Linked DNA regions of Homo sapiens: regions 1 and 3 are each reported to be linked to region 2. Evidence: microRNA targets listed by miRTarBase, many of them from high-throughput screens and not tested one by one. Region 2 holds a microRNA gene; each other region holds the end of a gene's coding sequence. Distances are from middle to middle.
Evidence for each region. The annotated mature microRNA hsa-miR-891a-3p reads AGUGGCACAUGUUUGUUGUGAG and lies in region 2 at 4,164-4,185, opposite strand. An mRNA with a match to its seed (bases 2 to 7 or 8) in the 3' UTR can be bound and repressed. Matches are read on the target gene's strand: a 7mer-m8 pairs with bases 2 to 8, a 7mer-A1 pairs with bases 2 to 7 and ends in A, and an 8mer does both.

Region 1: the mRNA of C17orf99 is a reported target of hsa-miR-891a-3p. Seed matches in the 3' UTR shown: 7mer-A1 at 5,723-5,729.
Region 3: the mRNA of PABIR2 is a reported target of hsa-miR-891a-3p. Seed matches in the 3' UTR shown: 7mer-A1 at 4,785-4,791.

What each region holds. Positions count from the first base shown.
Region 1 is chr17:78,164,714-78,171,878 of GRCh38, reverse strand. It overlaps C17orf99 (chromosome 17 open reading frame 99), which reads right to left. Exons shown (of 5, transcript NM_001163075.2): 5 at 5,582-5,990. The coding sequence ends at 5,833. It overlaps SYNGR2 (synaptogyrin 2), which reads right to left and starts at 3,298. Exons shown (of 4, transcript NM_004710.7): 1 at 3,164-3,298; 2 at 825-1,062; 3 at 230-369; 4 at 1-140. The coding sequence starts at 3,262. RefSeq lists an enhancer at 1-6 and silencers at 2,836-2,995, 3,026-3,635.
Region 2 is chrX:146,023,641-146,030,837 of GRCh38, forward strand. It overlaps MIR891A (microRNA 891a), which reads right to left and starts at 4,232; the gene lies at 4,154-4,232.
Region 3 is chrX:134,766,339-134,773,535 of GRCh38, forward strand. PABIR2 (PABIR family member 2) reads right to left here. Exons shown (of 10, transcript NM_001387468.1): 10 at 3,228-5,945. The coding sequence ends at 5,801. Among named protein-coding and RNA genes, the nearest start is that of PABIR2, 27 kb to the right of the region's middle.

The DNA of each region.
Region 1 (7,165 bases), not on the chromosome of region 2:
GGCTGTTGGTAGTTGTCCACAGATGCACCTGGGTAGGAGGCGTAGGCAGTGTTGGGGTCCGGAGTGGGGTCAACGTAATTCTGGATGAAGTCGTCCACGCCAGCCTTGTAGCGCTGGTAGGCCAGGGAGGCCAGCACACCCTGCAGGGGGAGCACAGCAGGGTACAGGTGGGTGGGGGACCCCACCCTCCACCACCCTTGACCCAAGAACCGGCCCCTGGCCATCCTACCCAGGAGAAGATGGAAAAGAAGCTGAAGGTGATGGCTGCCCTCACAGAGTCGGCCCCCACCAGCACGTCCTTCGGGTTGGTGACTGCCCACTGGTTGGTGAGGAAGCAGAAACCAACAAACCACAGGAAGGTCCAGAGAGCTGGGGGAGGACGGGTGAAGCGTCAGTTCCATGGAAAGGGAGGGGCTTTCCAGGACTCTGGGAGGGGACGCGGGCAGGTAGGGCAGGGACCTCCCGGGGGAGCCTCCACACTATGGAGGGGAGGACTTGGAAGCCGGGCCGGGAGCCACCTCCAAAGTCCCCCACACTCGGGCCTTGGCAGGGTGGGCCACAGCAGACAGCCTAGGGGACAAAAGGGGCAGAGGCAAAGCCCATCTGCTCGGGTGTGCTGCAGGTCCACTCAGCTTCTAGCTACCCCAGGCAGGGCTGGTGCCATTCAAGCACGGAAAAACACTAGCTGAAAACCCTTTCCTAAAAATGCCCTGGAGGAGTGAGCTGCTCCCTGCCCCTCCCAGAGAGGCCGAGACCCTCCCAGCTGCGGAACCCTAGAGTTAATGCCTCCCCCAAGATCAAATGGAGGTGCCACAGGCAGATACCTGAGAAGAGCAGGTCACCAATGACCAGGTACTTGCGGTCAGTGGCGTTGCTGATCTGGGGGAAATACGCGTCGACCACCAAGAAGAAGGCCGAGGCCAGGAAGGCCAGCACCCCGATGGCACTGCCATAGCGGCAGGCATCCTCGTTGCGGTTGAACACGCAGTACATCTGCTTAGACTCGTGGGCATTGCTGTAGCCCTCACCATAGATGCAGGAGAACACGATCAAGGCGAAGACCTGCCGGGAGGGGAGGACCTGGTAGGGCTGGTGGCCGCCTGAGGGGCACACACAGCGGGGACCCTGATGGGGTGTACAGATGCTGGCCTCTCCCACTACTGCTGTCCCCTTTTGGGTTTTTGTTGTTGTTTGAGATGGAGTCTTGCTCTTGTTGCCCAGGCTGGAGTGCAATAGTGCGATCTCGGCTCACTGCATCCTCTGCCTCCTGGGTTCAAGCAATTCTGCCTCAGCCTCCCTAGTAGCTGGGATTACAGGTGCCCTCCACCACACCCGTATTTTTAGTAGAGATAGGGTTTCACCATGTTGGCCAGGCTGGTCTGGAACTCCTGACCTCAGGTGATCCACCCTCCTCGGCCTCCCAAAGTGCTGGGATTACAGGCATGAGCCACCTCGCCCAGCCTGCTGTCCCCTTTTGGAGGCTGACATCTTAGCCCCTCCAAACTTGTGGAGGTGAGCTGATGAGCAAAGTGCTTCCTGATGCACCCCAGGATGAGAATCTGCAGGCACCAGGGGGCCTGCCCCTGGGAATCCTGGACCGGGGAGGGGTGGGGAATGGGCAGGGACCTCCTAGGCAGGGGCTGCTCCTGCCCCATCGGCCTGCTGCAGGAATCATTCTGCTTAGGTACCTGATGGATGAAGGGCAGTCCTTCCATCCCCAGCCCAACCTCACCTTGAAAGAGGTTTAACCAAGACAGGCCAAGTCACAAAGACTACCCATCCCCCGTCACCTTCAGCCCAAGTCACTTCTACAGCACCCAGCCTCTGCCTGAACACCTTGGTGAAGGTGGACAGGCCCTCTTGGGAAGGCCATGCTGGCGCCCCTGTGTCTTCACCTCCTGGAACCCCTGGAACCCTCCCTGGTTCAGCCTGGCCAGCTGTCTCCACACAAGGACTTGCAGCCTCTGTGGCATCCTGGTCCCTCCCAGTCTGTCTCCCACCCCACAGAGGGCCCTGCATGCACAGGGCACTACAAGGGGACTAACTCAGGCCTGTGGATACAGCTCTGAACTCAGACACCTGGAGGACCCAGGGTGGATGTAGGGGAGCTCCAGCCCCTTGGGAAGAGCCCCATACCACCTCCCTAAACTTGAAGGCCACCACCCACGCCTGCTCCACCTCAGCAGGTGTGGGACAGGTCTGTGAGCATCAGGATCCCTCTGGGATGGCCCCAGGACTCTCCCCTGCCAGTCCTGCCCTGTTGTCCCAGGGAGCTCTCCATAGGGCTCTGGAGCTGGCAGTCACAGGCCCCGCCCCCAGATGGAGATGAAGCCGGATCTCCGGGATGATGGGAGCAGGGTGCCCATCCAGGACTCCTGGCACTGCCATCCCGACCCACTGGGCACCTGATTCTTGGACACAGCCCAGGACAGAGGCGATCAGATCCCACAGCCTGGCTGGGAGCTGGTGTGGGCGCCCTGGAGGACCTCAGAAGCTCCAGGCCCAGGCATGGTCTGGGCACAGCAGGCCCACCTCTGCCTGCCCCCTCATGCCACCCCCTCCAGCTTTCAGGGCTGGCTGTCCAAGAACAGGCCCCCTCCCCGCCACACACACACACACACAAAACCTGGTTTTGGAGGTATTGCCCACCTTACAGGGAGGGGGTACATCTTGGGGTCCCTCAACTTCGGGTGGGAAGGCGGACCCGTGGCCTGCCCCGAGTGGGAAGGACACCCTGTTTCCGGGCGTTGGGTCGCCCCCCGCCCCCTCCCTTACCCCACGTGGCTTCGGAAAACCCCGTCCCGGTGAACTCCCCAATCTGGGAGTCGCGGCGTGCGGGCCACCTGTCCGGGAGCCGCCCCCAAACTCCTCCCACTGCCAGCGAGGCAGGGGCCCGCTCCCTGCGGAGATCCGGACACCCCGCGTCGGGGCGCGAGGCTGGGGGTGGGGTGGGTGGCGGGACCCGGGACCGGGAGGGGACAGCGGGACAGACTGTGGAGGGCGGGAAGGCGGGGCCCGGGACGCTGGACGCCGGCCCCGCTCGCCGCCAGGCCCCGGACGCGGCCGCCGCCACCTGTCGCGCTCGTGGGCTAGGGGCCCCGCCGGGCCTGGCGACGGAGAGGGGGTCCCCAGGGTGCCCTCGGCCCGCCCTCCCCGGGCTCACCAAGCACACGGCGCGCGCCACCACCTGCGGCTGCGTCAGGAAGCGCCGCAGGTCGAAGGAGCCGCCCGCCTTGGCCGCGCCGTAGGCCCCGCTCTCCATGTCGCCGTCGCCGCCGCTGCCGCCGCCGCGGAACGCAGAGGAACCTGCCCGGCGCCCCGCCCGACTCCACCCGCCGGGGGCGTGGCCAGGCGCCGCTAGGGACCGAGGGCAAAGTGCGGCCCTCGCGAGCGGCGGGCGAGCCGCGGGACTGCGCTTCTAGAGGCGGGGAGGGGCTGTGGCCGCGGAGCACCCGGGTCCACCCCACCTCGGGGTTGAGGGGCTAGTCTCCGGGCCACGCCGGCCGCAGCACGGACCAGAAAGGGTCAGAGAGTCCCCCGGGAAGACGGACGAACTGAGGACCGCTCACCCTCTTTGCCCCTGCCCTCCCACCGCCTCCTCTAGGAAGCCCACCACCTACCAAGAACCCACCCAGGCTCATAAGCAACCCCTCCCCCATCCCACTGAAAAACCCAGGCCACACCCTGGAGCCCCTCCCTGCCTGGCCTGCCACTCTTTCCTCCTCTCTGGGGCTAAGCCTGGGGTAGGGTCAAAGACCCCCTCCCCATTCCTCCTGGTCTGGGCAGAGCCCCAAGGCTGTGAAGGGCAGTGTGGCGTCACACTTAAGATGGTGTGCAAGGCCGGGAGCGGTGGCTCACACCTGTAATCCCAGCACTTTGGGAGGCCGAGGCGGTTGGATCACCTGAGGTCAGGAGTTCGAGACCAGCCTGACCAACATGGAGAAACCCCGTCTCTACTAAAAATACAAAAATTAGCCTGGTGTGGTGGTGCATGCCTGTAATCCCAGCTACTCGGGAGGCTGAGGCAGGAGAATCGCTTGAACCTGGGAGGTGGAGGTTGCGGTGAGCCGAGATTGTGCCATTGCACTCCAGCCTGGGCAACAAGAGCAAAACTCTGTGTCAAAAAAAAAAAAAAAAAAAAAAAAAAAGATGGTGTGCAAGGCCGGGCGCAGTGGCTCACACCTGTAATCCCAGCACTTTGGGAGGCCGAGGCGGTTGGATCACCTGAGGTCAGGAGTTTGAGACCAGCCTGGCCAACATGGTGAAACCCCGTCTCTACTAAAAATACAACAACAACAAAAAAATTAGCTGGGCGTTGTGGTAAGCGCCTGTAATCCCAGCTACTTGGGAGGCTGAGGCAGGATAATTGCTTGAAACCGGTAGGCAGAGGTGGCCGTGTGCTGAGATCGAGCCACTACACCCCAGCCTGGGCAACAGAGCAAGAGTCCATCTCAAAACAAACAAAACAAACAAACAAACAAACAAACAAACAAAACCAAAAACGAAAGTTAGCGAGGCGTGGTGGCAGCTACTAGCAGTCCCAGCTATTCCAGAGGCTGAGGTGGGAGAATTGTCTGAGCCCAGGAGGCGGAGTTTGCAGTGAACCAAGATCACGCCTTTGCACCCCAGCCTGGGTGACAGAGTAAGACCACATATCGGCCGGGCGTGGTGGCTCACGCCTGTAATTCCAGCACTTTGGGAGGCTGAAGCAGGCGGATCACGAGGTCAGGAGATCGAGAACACCCTGGCCAACATGGTGAAACCCCGTCTCCACTAAAAATACAAAAATTAGCTGGGCATGGTGGCGCGTGCCTGTAGTCCCAGCTACTTGGCAGGCTGAGGCAGGAGAATCGCTTGAACCCGGGAGGCGGAGGTTGCAGTGAGCCGAGATTGCACCATTGCGACAGAGCGAGACTCCATCTCAAAAAAAAAAAAAAAGAAAAGACCACATATAAAAAAATATATATATGGCATGCAAACAGAAATGAAGTTTTCAGGGCGACAGGCAGATGGCAAAGTTTAATCCAGTTCCAGTTCAGCCCCCTCTCGCCTCCGTCCCTCTCTACCTCCATCCCAAGAAAAACCGGTACAGAGGGTCTGGTGCAGGGTAGGCTGGGGCAGGCTCTGTGTGTGTTGGAGTGGGGAGCGGAGGTTGTACAGACAGAGGTGTGGGATCACAGGCTGACTGAACCCGGAAGAATTCCAGACCCCCCTTTGCTAGTTGCAGGTGCAGATTAACAACAGCAGGTGTGCCAGGTGGGGCTCACAGTCAACCCAGGTGAGCTGGACCACGTGAGAGTTGAACCATAGGACTGGGCCACCAGGAGGTGGGGTGCCTCTCCAGGGAAGAGGGGAGCAGGTGGGGGGGAGGGGCTGGGCCTTTTCGCAGTGTGCCCCCCTCCCTCTCCCTACACCCAGAGAGATGTGACAGCACCTGAGAGGCGAGGACAGGGCCACACAGACCCCCTTATTTCTGTGACCCTCCTGAAGCCCTCACACCAACAGTGTCTGTGTTTGCTGAAGGCCACCAGCACTCCAAGAATCCCAGCTGGCAGGCTTTTTTCTTTTTTTTAAATAAATGTTTTTGTGTATATTTAAGGTAGACAACCTGATATGATGGGATTCATATAGATAATATAGATAGCACAAAGGTTCCTATAGCGAAGCAAGTTAACATATCCACCATCTCTCATAGTTACCCTTTTTTTTTTTTTTTTTTTTTTGTGGCAAGAGCAGCTAAAACACACTCATTTTGCATGAACTCCAAATACGAACAGTGCACGCTGATGGCCTGCAGTCCTCTGCCGTGCTTGGCTCTCTGGACGGTTCATTCTACATGGCTGCTGCTTTGCGTCCTCTGACCTCCCCATTCCCTATCCTGAACCCCCCAAACTCCTCTTCACTCAGACGGCGGGTGCTCCTGTAGAGCGGCAAGGCAAGGATGGGGCTCTCCAGGGGACCCTGCCAGTCCTCCATCTTCTGGTCACCACCTTGACAAAGCAGTGGAGACTCAAGTCAGGCAGGCTCACCTCCCAGCCATCCCCTCCCGAGGCGTCTGAGAGTGTTCGTTTGTTTTGAGACGGAGTTTTGCTCTTTTTGTCCAGGCTGGAGTGCAATGGCACGATCTCGGCTCACTGCAACCTCCACCTCCTGGGTTCAAGTGATTCTCCTGCCTCAGTCTCCCGAGTAGCTGGGACTACAGGTGCGCACCACCACGCCCGGCTAATTTTGTATTTTTAGTAGAGACGGGGTTTCTTCATGTTGGCCAGGCTGGTCTCGAACTCCTGACCTCAGGTGATTCGCCTGCCTCAGCCTCCCAAAGTGCTGAGATTCCAGGCATGAGCCACTGTGCCCGGCCTGCCTCTGGGAGTTTTATGGTGCCAAGCACATCAGTGCCCCAGCAGAAGAGACATGAGGCTTACTCACCCCACTAAATGAAGGCTGTACCCCATTTTACAGAAGGAAAAACTGAGGCTCGGCGAGGTGACATGGCTCACCCACGAGTCTGGCTTCTGGAAAGAACAGACTTGGTAGAAGTGAGATGGGAAAGTGCCAAGGACAGACTCCTGGTAGAGCCACGTAAGGGCCTGGGCCACGGGCAGAGGATGAGAACCAGGACACGGCAGTGTCTCCCAAACAAAGAGAGATGAGTTCACAGAGGCAGGGCTGGCCACCACCAAAGCCAGACAGGCAGAGCACACAGGCCTGTGGTGCCTGCACTCAGACACTACAAAGGCCTTGGTCACTTTACATGTTAGTAAAGCCATGGCCTTGGAGAGGGGACCCTGGGAGGCTGGGCCCCAGGCTCTTGCCACCACCTCGGAAAGACTGCCCAAGGTGGTTCTCACAGAAGGCAGGAGCTCCTGGTCCACCTTGGTCTCCTGGAGGCATCATCCCTGCAATCCCTGCTCAGACCCCATAAAGAACTTAGGAGACTGCCCTCCCAGAGGCCAGCAGACTGTGTTACAGGGCACCTGGGAGCACTGGTCAGGGTCCGATAACGCCTTGAATGTGTAAGCCTCAGTAGGCACATGGCACACAGTAGGTCCTCATAAACACCTTCGAGTCATGCGTAAGCGGTGATGGCCGCTCTTTGCCCTGGCCACAGCCCTGCCCTGCAAGCCCCACCACCTGAGCTCTGCAGCCAGGGCCCGGTTGGACCTCT
Region 2 (7,197 bases):
GAAGAGATTGATATCCTATCTTTAGCCTTTTCAAACAAAATAATTATCAGCCAAGGATTTTGTATCCCACAAAATTAAGCTTCATAAATGAAGGAGAGATAAAATTTTTCAGACAAATGCTGAAGAGAATACACCACTACCAAGCCAGCACTACAAGAAATGCTAAAAGGAGTTCTAGATCTTCTAACAAAACCTTGAAATACACCAAAATAGAATCTCCTTATAGCATAAATTTCTAAGGGACTATAAAACATTAACACAATGAAAGAAAAGGTATTCAAGCAACAACTATTCAGGAAAATATATTCAATATTCAAATGTATTAATTTATTTCATTCTTCTTTCTTAAATGATACCTTCCTAGTCTTTTGTTTTGTTTTTTCTTTTTTTTTTTTTTTTGAGACAGAGTTTCACTTACATTGCCCAGGCTGGAGTGCAATGGCAGGATCTCGGCTCACTGCAACCTCCGCTTCCCAGGTTCAAGCAATTCTTCTTCCTCAGCTGCTGAGTAGCTGGGATTACAGGCTCCTGCCACCATGTCCAGCTAATTTTTGTATTTTTAGTAGAGACAGCGTTTCACCATGTAGGCCAGGCTGGTCTTTAACTCCTGACCTCAGGTGATTCGCCCCCCTCAGCCTCCCAAAGTTTTGAGATTACAGGCGTAAGCCACCACGCCCTGCCTGAAGTAAACATCTTGTCTCTAAAAGGCAAATGTAGACAAATGGGTGAGGCCTATTTCCAACATTTAGCATGCTCTCTGATTCACTATCAAAACGGAATGTGGAGTTTGCTTTTAGTTTTGCAATGCCTCATGCACGTAGTTAATATCAAACACCCAAAGAACTGAAGAAAATTAATCCGAAATGATTACTGTTAACTAGCTTTAGTAAGTTGGTTAGACAAGACATATACAAAAACCAAAAGCTTCCCTTAGTACCAGCAATCATTATATTAAAACATATTTGGAAACTACTGATTTTGATAATGGGGAAAGGCAATTCATTCCAACATTACTGCTTCGGACAACTAAGCAAGCTAAACAAAATATATTTTACAGCTCCTCTTGAAAGTCTCAAACACCTTCCTGTAAGTGAGGAAATGCCTGGCCAAAATCTAGGAGACAAGAACCAAGAAACGTAAGCTCTGTCTCATAAGTGGTTTGCACAGATGACATTTGCTAAATGCCTGACCCCAATCCAGTTCTCCTGGCCATAACTGGAACCTTACTCTCACTCCCACCTGAAATTATCAATATCCAGGCGATCATTCACCTATTATCCCGCTACTAAGCTTGACACAAATGTAGCAAAGTTTCATATCCTTTCTTCATCAAAGCAAATATAATTGTAGATACAGAGCAGAGAAGAAATATGTCCATTTTATCGGACTGTTAAAGGTCTAGAAAAGCTTTGAAGGCAAACATCTGGAAAACGATTCCTATTTTGACCCAGTTCTGCCAGTATTTATTTCTTCCACTGGCCCTAGGGGATTTAACTCACAAAGATGATGATAGGCTGTTTACCATGCAATGAGAAGCACTAAACACACCAGTTGGCATGGAGTCAGAGACTACTATATATCTCATTATATTTCATTGCCTTATTCCGTAAAAATAGAATTTCATTAAAAAAAGTAAATAGAAGTAAAAGGACAAGAGCTAAAACAAGAACTTACATTTCTGAAATGCCCACTTACACCACATCAATGTACTTAGGAATTTTCTGTGAATCTTCTCATACGTTCTCACAACAAACACATGATGATGAATCCACTACACACTCATTGACATGGATTTGTCATGAAGATTCGTGAGAACACGTGTGAAAATTCACTTGGATCCTCAGATATAACAATGCAGCAGATATTATGTTTCATGTAACATAAAGGGCATATTTAAAGAAGAAAAATGACCCATGAAATTTCCTATTTACAACCTACTTAACCATCTATGAGATAAGTTTGTCAGGAATTCTATTACCTATAATTCACCATCACTATCAACTATCTTTCTTTACAACAAATTGTCCCAAAATCTTTATAATTCTGATGAATGAGACAGCAATCCAGAAACAGCTGGCAGCAGGTACTTTCAGATTTATGATGGGAAGGCAGAGTTCTCCTAAGTGACTTGCTTGGAACTTACTGACTGTGATGATGTGGAATGAGAATTTCTTTAATACAGCAATGCATTAAAAATGGAGATATCACTGTCTATCTAGAGTCATTAAAACATTAAAACCATTAGATTTGTAAGGGTGGGAGAGAACAAAGAGACACTACACAAAGTACTTACTTCACAAACCATCAGTATTAACTATCAATAAATAACGGAAAAACAAGAATCTTAGCAAAAAGAAAGACGAATCTGTAGAAGTGCCCAACTGTATACTCAGATCTCCGAAACATACAAACATTTCCAAGAGGAGACTTCAGGATGGCTAACAACTTAAAGCCCTTACCAGATGAATTAGGTGGAGCAATGCTTTACTGAAAACTATTTAAAAATCCTATAGGTGTAAACATCTCACTAGAATGGTCTCAAAAATAATGAACGATATCAGAGGTAAGATGGTAATGAATAGGTAATATGTAAAAATTATGAGCTTTTTGTACATAGGCCTCTACATGTCTAAGGATTTCCAGGCTCTTACCATTTGGTAATCGGAGATTACTGTTTCCAGATCAGATGAAGGAATAGTGACCAAATTAATCTGCTGTCTAAAACAAAGAAAAACCAGATATATACAGAAAAACATGTCTTTCAGACACTGTAGAGTGATCTGTGAGAGAGGGGACACATTAGAACAGTCCGTCCATTCTCCTGCCAACTTCTCAGAGAGAGAATATTGACTCCAGTGCAAAGAATGGGAACCCAGGCAAAGCCTGGCAATTTTCAATATTAACAGATTAAAATGGAAAAAAAGAGATCATTTCAATTGATGCGGAGAAATATGTGACTAAATCTAACATCCATATCTAAAAATAATAACAGCAAATCAGGCATAGAATCGAGTATATCCTCAATTGGTTGAAGGGCTTCTATGAAAACGCACAGCTAACGGAAGACTTAATTGTTAACATTTTTATGTTTGACTCCTAAGATCAGGAACCAGGTGAGGATGTCCCATTCACCATTTATATGCAACAATTATGCCAAATTAAAGTAAATGATCAGGTAAGGACATAATATTTTATAATTTGCAATCATGGATGAATAAAATCAAGTCTGTCATCTTCAACCATTAACTTCCCCTTACCTGTGTTTGCAGTGGCGTCAACGCTTGCACTGCAAATAAATTATCTCTATGGGCATAGATATCCACAGGGTATTCTAGAAAAATATGTAAATTGAATCATAAAGCAGAATACATTACAATATGTATATGAAAAACCACCAATGAAATCCTATGAGTGATAACTGATGATACCCTTCTTAGTACTAATATAATAGCAGTGTTACTAGGACTGATACCATTAGTTATAGTACTAGTACTGCTTGCAGTAGTACTAACAGGACAATTTGCTTAATGACTACATGCCTGGCAGATATGTACTTCAGATTTTCATATGCATTTCCACATTCCATAACTACAACAAATTGTTCCCAAAGAAACGATATCCGAAAGTTTTGATTTGTCAGTGATTGAGGACATGTATATAACGTACATTTGCAAATGGAAAAAGACACACAGAAATGCAGAGATAATCACAGTAATCACAGATAACCATATAATCACAGAACAGTTTTGATTTGTCATAGCAATTGAGGACATGTGTAGAACATACATTTGCAAATGGAAAAAACCAGAAATGCAGAGATAATCACAGTAATCACAGCTAATCATGTGATCATAGAACAACATTAAGACTGCTACGCAGCGTTAACCTCACAGAAACCATCCACATTAACCTCAGAAAAACAGAAAATAAGAAGAAATTCATCTTGCTGCTACCTGTCCTCTGATCTCTGACCTAATAAAAGGTGTTTATTGAACATGCTGTCATTTTTACCAAAGTACTAGTAATACAGTCTCTACCGCTATGATTACTCTACTACCAGTGTCACTACAAGGAGGTGAAGGAGAAGCAGCAGTAGCTACATAACTGATGACTTACATGGTTTGCAGTGTCCATGAGGCCTGTAGAGATTATCTCTTTTGACCCTCACAACAAACATGTGCCACTGAGTATTTTACTGAATCAGTGGCTCAGGTTCGTTGCAAGGATTAAGGAGACAACATTTGTAGACTCTTTGGGAACCTAGAAAAAAACAAAGAAGCTACGTAATTATAATATGACTATGCAACATTGAATACCTAAAATAAATGACATACTAATTTACTATTCACAACCTGTGTAACTATCAGCATGTATATTTTCTTTCCCATTTGTATTAGTGATAATTTCCTGGTTCTGCAGTTGGAGGATGAAAATCTTGAAGGGGCTGGTAGTAAAGCTCTACCAATCCATTGTAAGAATTCCGACTTCCCAAAATTTGCAAATCACTGATTATGATACTGAATGAGGCTATCTATACCGAATGCAATTCTACAAATATAGACAATGATTCTCAACCCAGAAATACGTAAAATGTGACAACTACAAGATAAGTTTATACTGGGAAGAAAAAAAGACAGATTAAAAAGAATGACAACCTTCTCCAAACAACCAGCGATAATTGAGTGAAGACTCGTTGAAAAGCTAAATTTCTCTAAAAATATACATATGTATACATATATTCACAGATATCCATGCATACATAAGATAATGTCCCTGAAAAGCACACACACAAAAAATTGAAGGGATTATGTAATTCAGGCTTTATTCACAATAATAATGAGCAAGCCCTATATTGTTCATTTCTCTCAAATTCATTGCCTGTCCATATCTAACTCTATTTTTTTAAAGAATTTTGATAAAATTCTTCTACTGCTTATTGCCTAATGAAGTTCAAAGATATTAATAAAAAGATATATGAAGGAAAAATGTGGAGAATCTACCACAGGAGTTCCTAAATGGTATTCTTAACAGTTCTATAATAATAATCAACACTAGGTAATTGCCGTTTACAAATTCAAACTTTCCAAGAAAACCAAGTTGGTGTCTGATATGACACGTTAAATGAAGCAAATGGCTGTGAAACTTATGTTGAGCTGACAGTTCATACAAATTCATGATGTGATAGGCCAGTTGTACAATTAGAAGTAACTCTTGGTGACTTAACAACTCTGTTTATGCAGGATATTAATTTATTGAATATTTAATTGAGTATACAAAGGGAGGTGGTTATCTTTCTGGAATCATCTGAAAAAATGATGAGAACTGGTTGGAAATGGGGCAAGAATTAAAGACAAAAAATGACAAAATTATCTTTCCTGTTTTCCAGCCACAATCATACATCAAAAAAAGAATGTATTCCAAACAAAAATAAATCAAAAATTGCTAGGACAAATAAAGTTTTCACAGATATAGACACAAAACTATTTAGTTTCCTTTAGTAGACATAACATAGGTTTGCCTGGATAAGTATTTTTCATAATTTTAAATGACTAGGGGCCAGGCATGGTAGCTCACAGCTGTAATCCTAGCATTTTGGGCATCCAAGGAAGATGCATCATCTGAGCACAGGAGTTCACGACCAATATGGGGAAACCCCATCTCTACTAAACACACAAAAATTAGCTGGGTGTAGTTGCCGGTGCCATTAATCCCAGCTACTTGGGAGGCAGAGGCAGGAGAATCCCTTGAATCTGGGAGGTGGGGGCTGCAGTGAGCCGAGATCCCCCCATTGCACTCCAGCCTGGGAGATGAGGGTAAAACTCAAAAAAAAAAAAAAAAAGCTAGGATGGTAACATTTAAGTAAGAAGAACCTGCCCAGGTTCCCAATCAAGCCTGTTTATGCAAATGAAGTACTGAAACTTAAAACTCAGTTCTGATTGGTTGATACACCAGACCCTGGATTGGTGGACGTGAGTGACCTTTAATTGGTTGGTTTAGGGGAGTCCTGAAAGTCCCAATGTTAAATAGTGTAGGTTTTCAGGGAACTCAGAGTGCCTCTGTGACTCCTAGTTAGCAAATGGCCACTTTGCTTTATTTGAAATTTAGGCCTAGTGACCCACTCAGGATCCATCTTGAAGAATTAGCTCAAACATGGCAGCACACAGCACTTCCTTTCATCACAGCACCAGCAAACTGCTCTGGGTCCATCTAGTCCCACACATGGATCCCAGTGGCAGGGCACTAGCCAACTGCACTAGAGCCATTTACTTCAAATAAATGATGATTTACTTATGAGGCACTCAGGTACCTCTTAAATTTGAACAAAAGTCTCTTGGGTTAAGTTGCTTTTGGTTTCCTGCTAGAGTGAGTTTAAAGTCTCAAGAATCAGGCCAACACTATCCTGGTAGGGGTCTCTTACAGACATCTGTTAAAAGAGGATAAAACAATTTTACAGAGGAGGCAACTGCTTCCAAATATGAGGAAGATAAATACTTTTAGGGTAGAATGCAGAAAAATTCTATACCTGGGGGAAGCCAGCTAAAAATACATGGATATTGGAAAGTTAACCCAGTAAGGCCAGCCAGGAGGCTTCCTGAAGGTGTCCCTTTCAGAGATTTGATTAATTTGATACCTTAAATGTTCCCAATTCACCCTGGCTGGAATATTTCTTCAGGCACAGCCGCAAGTGTTAGCAACAGCACAAACACCACCCTGTGCAGTGAGGCGATAATCTAAAGCAATGTGGTCATCTAGGACCATGAAAGCAAGGGAGTCTAGGGACTTCTGTTGTGCCCTAGTGGCTTGGGCAGTGGAATGAGCAATTTTGTTAACAGTGCAAGAAAAATTTTTGACCATATATTCACTCCAAGCAGAACCTAGTCCAAACCAGGACCCCAGAAACCTTCCTAATCTAGCTTATTCACTAGAGTTAATTCCTCTGGGTACATCACCTCCTTCAAGAGTGTCCCAAACTGTAATGTAAAGGGTTCACAATTGGGGTTGGATTGTGGCCTAAGACTCTCATATAGCTCTTGGAAAGCAGGCTGGGTAGCATTGGTGAGGCTAACAGAATAGATCAAAATTTGGGTAAAAGCTGCAACAACTAGCACAATGAATACAACAGGACCTCACATGTCAACATGAACATTAAATGTCAATGGTCCAAATGCTTCACTTAAAAATACAGAATAGTGAAAT
Region 3 (7,197 bases), 11 Mb from region 2:
TGTGAACAGTCAAGCACAGAAGATAAGGAGCTTGTGGTGGTTGGGGTGGGTGTGAACCAGGGATATTTAAAACTTGAGGACTTAGATCCTCTTTCCTTCCTTCCATCCAGGCAGCCAGGACTGGCAGGCCATCAGGGTCAGAGCCAAGGAGATGGATGGGGCTGAGGAGGCAGGCCGGGTAGCCAGCTGGCAGGGTAGGAAATTGGTTACACATAGGAGAAAGGAGTAATTACACTGAGATAAACACTGGAATGAACCCTGTGGTACTGAATTGGAATCAGAGGTATAGTTTGAACTCATTATATTTAATAAACAAATATAGATGTGTATATACATTTACATGGTGTATATATACACATACATGTGTTTTTCTCTGTGATCTGAGGCCTTTAAACAATGATGCCCCAATAGCGATGATATACCTAGTTCCCCACCTTGGTTTTTAAACATTGTTCTCTATTAAAAGGAATCAAGGGGCTCCTCAGAGAAATGGCTGATCCCAGGGGCTGGGGCAAGCAGAGTATGAATCTGGGACATCTTGAGCCAGAAAAGTAAAAAACTGCTCAGAAACTGATAGGGATTTGTCCAAAGGACACAGGGACAAGTTGGAGGGGCCCTCATTTTCCAAATCTGAGGCAACTTGAATATCAAAACAATCATGGTAATGAAGTAAAACTAACTAAAACAGGAGTCCATGAGTCCACACTGATGCAAAGTGGTGGAGGAGAGTGTGTTCTCCTTTACAGTAGAATGTCAACTAATAAATTAATGATGGAATTAGAGCCAGCATTAGGTAGCCATCATGATACTATCAGGCAGCCATCATAATACCATCAGACAAGAAAGATCAATGAATGCTAAAACTAGGGGGTCAAAGTTTAATGAGTAAACAGGATATTTATAGTCTCAAAGTACCTCCACACAAAATACTTTAATTTCAATGGGAAAAAGACAGTAGACACCACCTTATCCAAGGGATCAAAGTTATCATCACTAGTAACAGGACAAAGTAACACCATGTGCCTCCTCTAGAAGAAATAGGGGTCTCTCCCCTATTGAAGTAGTCTGAATAAAATCTGTGTTGCTAACTATGTCTGGTATTGTTCCTCTTTGACAAGGGCAAGAAGATATATCTCAGAAACAGTATGAAAAGTCATGCTGAAAAATTATATGCAAGGAATGAAAGTAAGCAACAAGTCAAGGTTAACTCCTGGGTTCTTGGTTTGAGTAGCTGGGTGGGTGAGGGTGTCAGTTACTAAGATAAGAAAGTCTCCTCCTCCAGAAGAAAAAAAAAAGATTTTTTCCCTTTTGCCAAAAACGGCATTATCACAACTATAGGCAAAAACTGAATGGGTCTGTAGATCAGAGGCAGTTTAAAAAAATCTTTTTATTTAAAAAAAATATAGATACCAGGGTCTTGCTATGTTGCCCAGGCTGGTCTCAAACTCCTGGACTTAAGTGATCCTCTCGCCTCAGCCTCCCAAAATGCTGGGAGCCACTATGCTCAGCTAATAGATGGCAGTTTTGTGTCAGTTAATTTTCTGATTTTGATAGTTGTAATGTGGTTATGTAGAATATCTTTAAGAAATTTACGCTGAAGCATGTAAGGGCAATGGGGCATCATATGATTCAGGAAAAAAATGTATACGTGCATATATATATATATGTATATACATCCCCCCCACACAGAGAGACACAGGGAGAGACAGAATGATAGTGCATATATAGGAGAGACAGATAGACAAAGCAAATGTGGTTAAATGTTAACAATTAAGGAACCTGGGTGAAGGATATATAGGAGTTATTTGAGCTACTCTTACAACTTTTTTGTAAGTTTGAAATTATTTCAAATTTCAAAATGTAAAGGTTTTTTTTTGTTTTTTTTTTTTTAAACAGTCTCGCTCTGTCACCCAGGCTAGAGTGCAGTGGTGCAATCTCAGCTCACTGCAACCTCTGCCTCCCAGGTTCAAGCGTCAGCCTCCCAAGTAGCTGGGATTACAGGCGCACGCCACCACATCCAGTTAATTTTTGTAATTTTAGTAGAAACAGGGTTTTGCCATGTTGCCCAGGCCGGTCTCAAACTCCTGGCTTCAAGCAATCCACCCGCCTTGGCCTCCCAAAGTGCTGGGATTACAGGCGTGAGCCACCATGCCCAGCCCAAAATGTATTTTAAAATAAAGCAGCTCATGTTATTTCTTAAAAACTGAAGATAGGGCCAGGCGAGGTAGCTCACGCCTGTAATCCCAGCACTTTGGGAGGCTGAGGCAGGTAGATCACCTGAGGTCAGAAGTTTGAGACCAGCCTGGCCAACATGATGAAACTCCATCTCTACTAAAAAATACAAAAATTAGCCAAGCATGGTGGCGGGCGCCTGTAGTCCCAGCTACTCAGGAGGTTGAGGCAGGAAGAAATGCTTGAATCCAGGAGGCAGAGGTTGCAGTGGGCAGAGATTGTGCCACTGCACTCCAGCCTGGTCAACAAGAGCAAAACTTTGCCTCAAAAAAAAAAAAAAAAAAAAGAAACTGAAGATAAACTTAATAATCTGAATCACACATAAAAGGCTTTTTGCCTGTTTTTTGTTTTTTTAAGATGGAGTCTTGTTCTGTCACCAGGCTGGAGTGTAGTGGCACAATCTCGGCTCATAGCAACCTCCGCCTCCCGGATTCAAGCGAGTCTCCTGCCTCAGCCTCCCGAGTAGCTAGGACTACAGGTGTGCACCACCATGTCCAGCTAATTTTTGTATTTTTAGTAGAGACGAGGTTTCACCATGTTGGCCAGGATGGTCTTGATCTCTTGACTTCGTGATCTGCCTGCCTCAGCCTCCCAAAGTGCTAGGATTACAGGCGTGAGCCACTGTGCCCGGACCCTTTTGCCTGTTTATCTACCCTCATCTTTTTCTAAAAATAATTTATAGAGGCTTATCAATATGTAAAAATTTTAACAAGATAAACCAAATTGAAAACGAGGAAGAAAGATGTATGACCCTGGCAAGAACCTTCTAAGTTGTCAAATTCTACAAAATACTCTTGAAAATTTGATTATGTGGAGAGGTTTCACTTCGTTTTGGCAAACAGCCCCAACTTCAACATAGCTATTCGTTCTTTTGTGTTTCTGATATCCTTTTATTCAAACTTGACCTGCAATTAGACACAGAGAATAAACTACTGGGATATAGGGGCAGAAAATAATTATTATTAAGAACAAAGGACAGACTTTTAAAACACTAGTAAATTTTATGCATGTATACACACTTTATTAAATTTGCATTCTAAGATATACACAAGGCCAGCATTTCACAAAACTTCCTATTATTCCAAAAGCAGTAATCATGAAACAGTGATTATATAAGTCAATCAAGCAAAAAACATTATCTATAGGGTTGTATCATATCATCTCTTATACCTGTTTTCAAATAGAAGCCTGAAATATATGATATATATTAGAATAGGAAGAGAGAATTTTACTTTATAACAATCGCTTTTCAAATATTAGACTTTATATAAAAATAAAGGGGTCTTAACAAAGTTCATCTGTGAGTTAGCATATCTCTTTATTTCAAAACAATCCCTGCAAAAACTTAACTTTCCAGTCCATTTAAACAACAAAAACTAAAAATGAAGCTTGGTTTAAATAATAAAGTGAATCATCTTGTCTCCTAGTTCTCACACCATTGGAACAACTTCCATTTCCTGACCTAATTCTATCCCACCATTGAATTTCAAAAATTAATGTAAATACCATCATATTTCAGTTATTTCTTAACAGTGTTAAGTTCGAGCCTAAAAATGATGGCCAAGTGTCCCTTTAAGGCAAAGAAGACAGTAGGTGGATAAATATCCTGAAAGACAAAACCATCTATTATCATTATAGAGGCAGAACATTTTGACATGATCTTTTACAAACAGAATAGATACACTGCATACCATCGAAGAATTTTTTCTTTATAATGGCATACTAGGGGACAAGCTTCATAATAGATTTATGTTACGTTTGAAGAAGTAGAGACTTTTCCCAGATGAGAGCAATACAAGAAATAAAGCCATTAATGGCTGTTATGGTTACAATTTAAAATAAAGGACACATCGGATGCTGTAACAGAAGTACTGCACGCTAAGTGATGCTCTCTTGTAATTGAAAGAGAATGGGTTTCCCTTCAAACCATATGCTATTACTAGTCTCTGAGTGCCTTCAAAGCACATACTCTTCCTTTAAAATCCAAGGATCCTTGCCTTCAAAAGACACAAATGCAGTAGTTTTCATTTCTTACATTCACTTAAAAATGGATTATGATTCCAGCAGGCAAATCTGCATATTAAATATAGACAACCCAACCACAGTATCTGAACGTTAAAAGAAATCTATCACGACAGACATTTTACCTAGTTATAAATAACGTAACAATAGATCACACTCAGATTTCTTAAACAGCTCACTCAGGAGTTTCCTCTTTTAAAAATTAAATAACTTATGGTACCTCACACTTATAGCACATACACAGTTCATAGCTGAAACAGCTTCTTAAAAGCAGAATGCACAATCACATTGACTTTTTCAGCTTCTAAAAGCTTCTTTGTAGATATTAAACTGCCCTCACTACAAGGCAGTATGAACAAGAACTGGATTCTGATTCTGGTGGCAACACAATAACTATAAGGCAGTAAGAACAAGAACTGGATTCTGATTCTGGCAGCAACACAATAACTAAAACACCATTCACCACATGACAAAACAAACAAATCCAATGACAAAAAGGAATCGGAAAAAAAGCAGCAACAGAAACAGTATGTGGCAATCATTCACATAAGGCCCCTCTTCCACCATACCTTATGATATACATCCCTTATAGCATGACAATGTACCCCAAGGCACCTGAGGCCTCATAATACCACTCGAGACACTGACAGCTCCATGGACGCTTTTGTACACAGTGGTTTGTGTGTAAATAACTATTCATTCATTTGTAGATGCTCCACACATCTGGTCAAGGCAGGAATTTCTTCTCCTTGATAACACCACCTAGAAATATCAACAATATTTTATATATTCCTTAGGGCAACAGGTTTGAGGAGAAATATATCAACTGTGGTAGCAAAGTCATAAGAACCTGTGATGACTAATCCAAGCATCCTGTAAGTCCGTTTACATTCTCAGCACTAAAATCAATGCTCACTTCACACACCCCAACAGCAAAGAAGCAATAAGAGTAATGAAAGCAACTACGTATTTCTTCCCCTCTGTGAGAAATGGCATAAGCGGCTCAAACAGGAAAGGGAAACAAAATAATGTACTTGAAGCTGATGCAGAAAAATAAAAATTTAATATAATTAAAAGCAATTTATATATCATCATGAAATAAAGAGAGATTTGAAACTATGTAGTCAACAGAGGACAAAAAAAAATCTCTCAAGCAAGAGAATTTCTGATCAAATCTGTCATATCACTGCTGCGGAAAAGGACCATTAAAGGCAATACACATCAGTGCCTTTCTTAAATGTATAGACTCAAAATAGGTGTTTTTTGAGGCACTAAGAAAAAAGATTCCTCTAAGCAATCAAAAATCAGCATTTGAGATTTAATCACTAAATCCAAAATGAGATCAGCAAAACCAGATACTAGTAAGGTCACTAGGCTCACAAAATTGAACTTTGGAGAAGAGAGATGCCAAAGAGTAATAATAGCATCAGAATGTGTGAAATCTGTAAAACTTTAATCCTCATTATGGATCAAAGTTCTCTGCGTTCCCCACTAAACATTTTATGTAGGAAACAGCAGTTAAAACGTTGAATCAGAAATGGTTAAGTCACTTGGGTGAGAGATCATCCATCAAGATGAACGAAGAGCATGAATTGGAGCATGCTACTGGAGACTCTGCGGTAGCGCTGCCTTTAGCCAGCGGGTCTGAGGATAAGCCACTGCTGCTACTACTGCCATCCAAAATATCTGAACTGAAGACAAAGCAAAAAGAATTATAAGCAAATGCAACTATCAGGGTAAACATAACATGCAATGACACAGTTTCAAGAGCTCACAAATCAGTAAATCACTTGTAAATAATAAAAAAGCATAAAGCCACAGCAATGAACTACATAATATACTACATTATAAAGCCACAGAAATCCAAAGTAAGACTCTTCGAGGTCCTGTATCATTTGATTGTCCCCCCTAGAGGCACCAGACCGCCTAACCTACAATAAACGTTCCTCGTGACATGCCATGGTTTTCGGGAGGGAGTTCCTTCACTTCACTTCAGCTCAAGAAATTTCTATTCTTATGTTTACCTTCCCATCAGGCTTGGAGCAAGAGGAATGGTTACTTATTGAGGTAACCATACTCGGACTATCAGAGGTGTTCGATCAAGTACACTGCCTCATAGTTCCTCTACTCTAAAACAAAGTCTTTCAACTCCCCTAGAGTTATCACTTCCCCATTCCCAAAGGGCCTTCAATTCAAACACATTTTTTAAATGATTTCCCCCTCCAATTCTATGCCATTTATAATTCCTTACACTATTTCCTTTCTTCTTGCTTTCAAAACCCAAAGGTCTATTTCTAGAAGAGTCCCTTTCTTTGATCCCTTCAGTTATTCTCCAGTTAAGCTTCTACAATGAATAATCTACACTTGTGGTCTCAATACCCGTTGTCTATTGCCTCTTTATCCTGACAACTGGCTCCTGTTCCTATCCTTCCAGTAAAACTCCAGATCTGGACATCAAGAACCTCTATACCCAGCCCAGGGATTCCTTCCCTATCCAGCCTGGGGGCTCACTGTTCCCCAACCATCAACCTGGCCTGACTCATGAATCTGGCTCCATACTTCAGCAAGGAACTGAGAGCCTTTACAGTCTGGCATCAAGCTGCCTTTCTGGCTTTGGTTTCCATCAATCCAGTAATAAGCTCTATGCTTTATATTTGCCCTGAATTCAATCATTCACTTATTCTAATATTTACTGAGTGCCTGCCAAGTGCAGGAAGCACACTAGATATTAGAAATACAATGGTGTTTAAAACAGACGTGGTCCCAGCCCTCATTGAATTTACAGTATTGTGCAGGAGACAGACATTTAAATAATCATGCTAATAAATATATAATTATAATTTGCAGTAAAAGTGATAAAGGAAAGATACAAGGGGCTATGAGAATATATAACATGGGTAACCTAACCTAATTCGGAGGAATGAGAAAAGGTTCCCCAGAGAT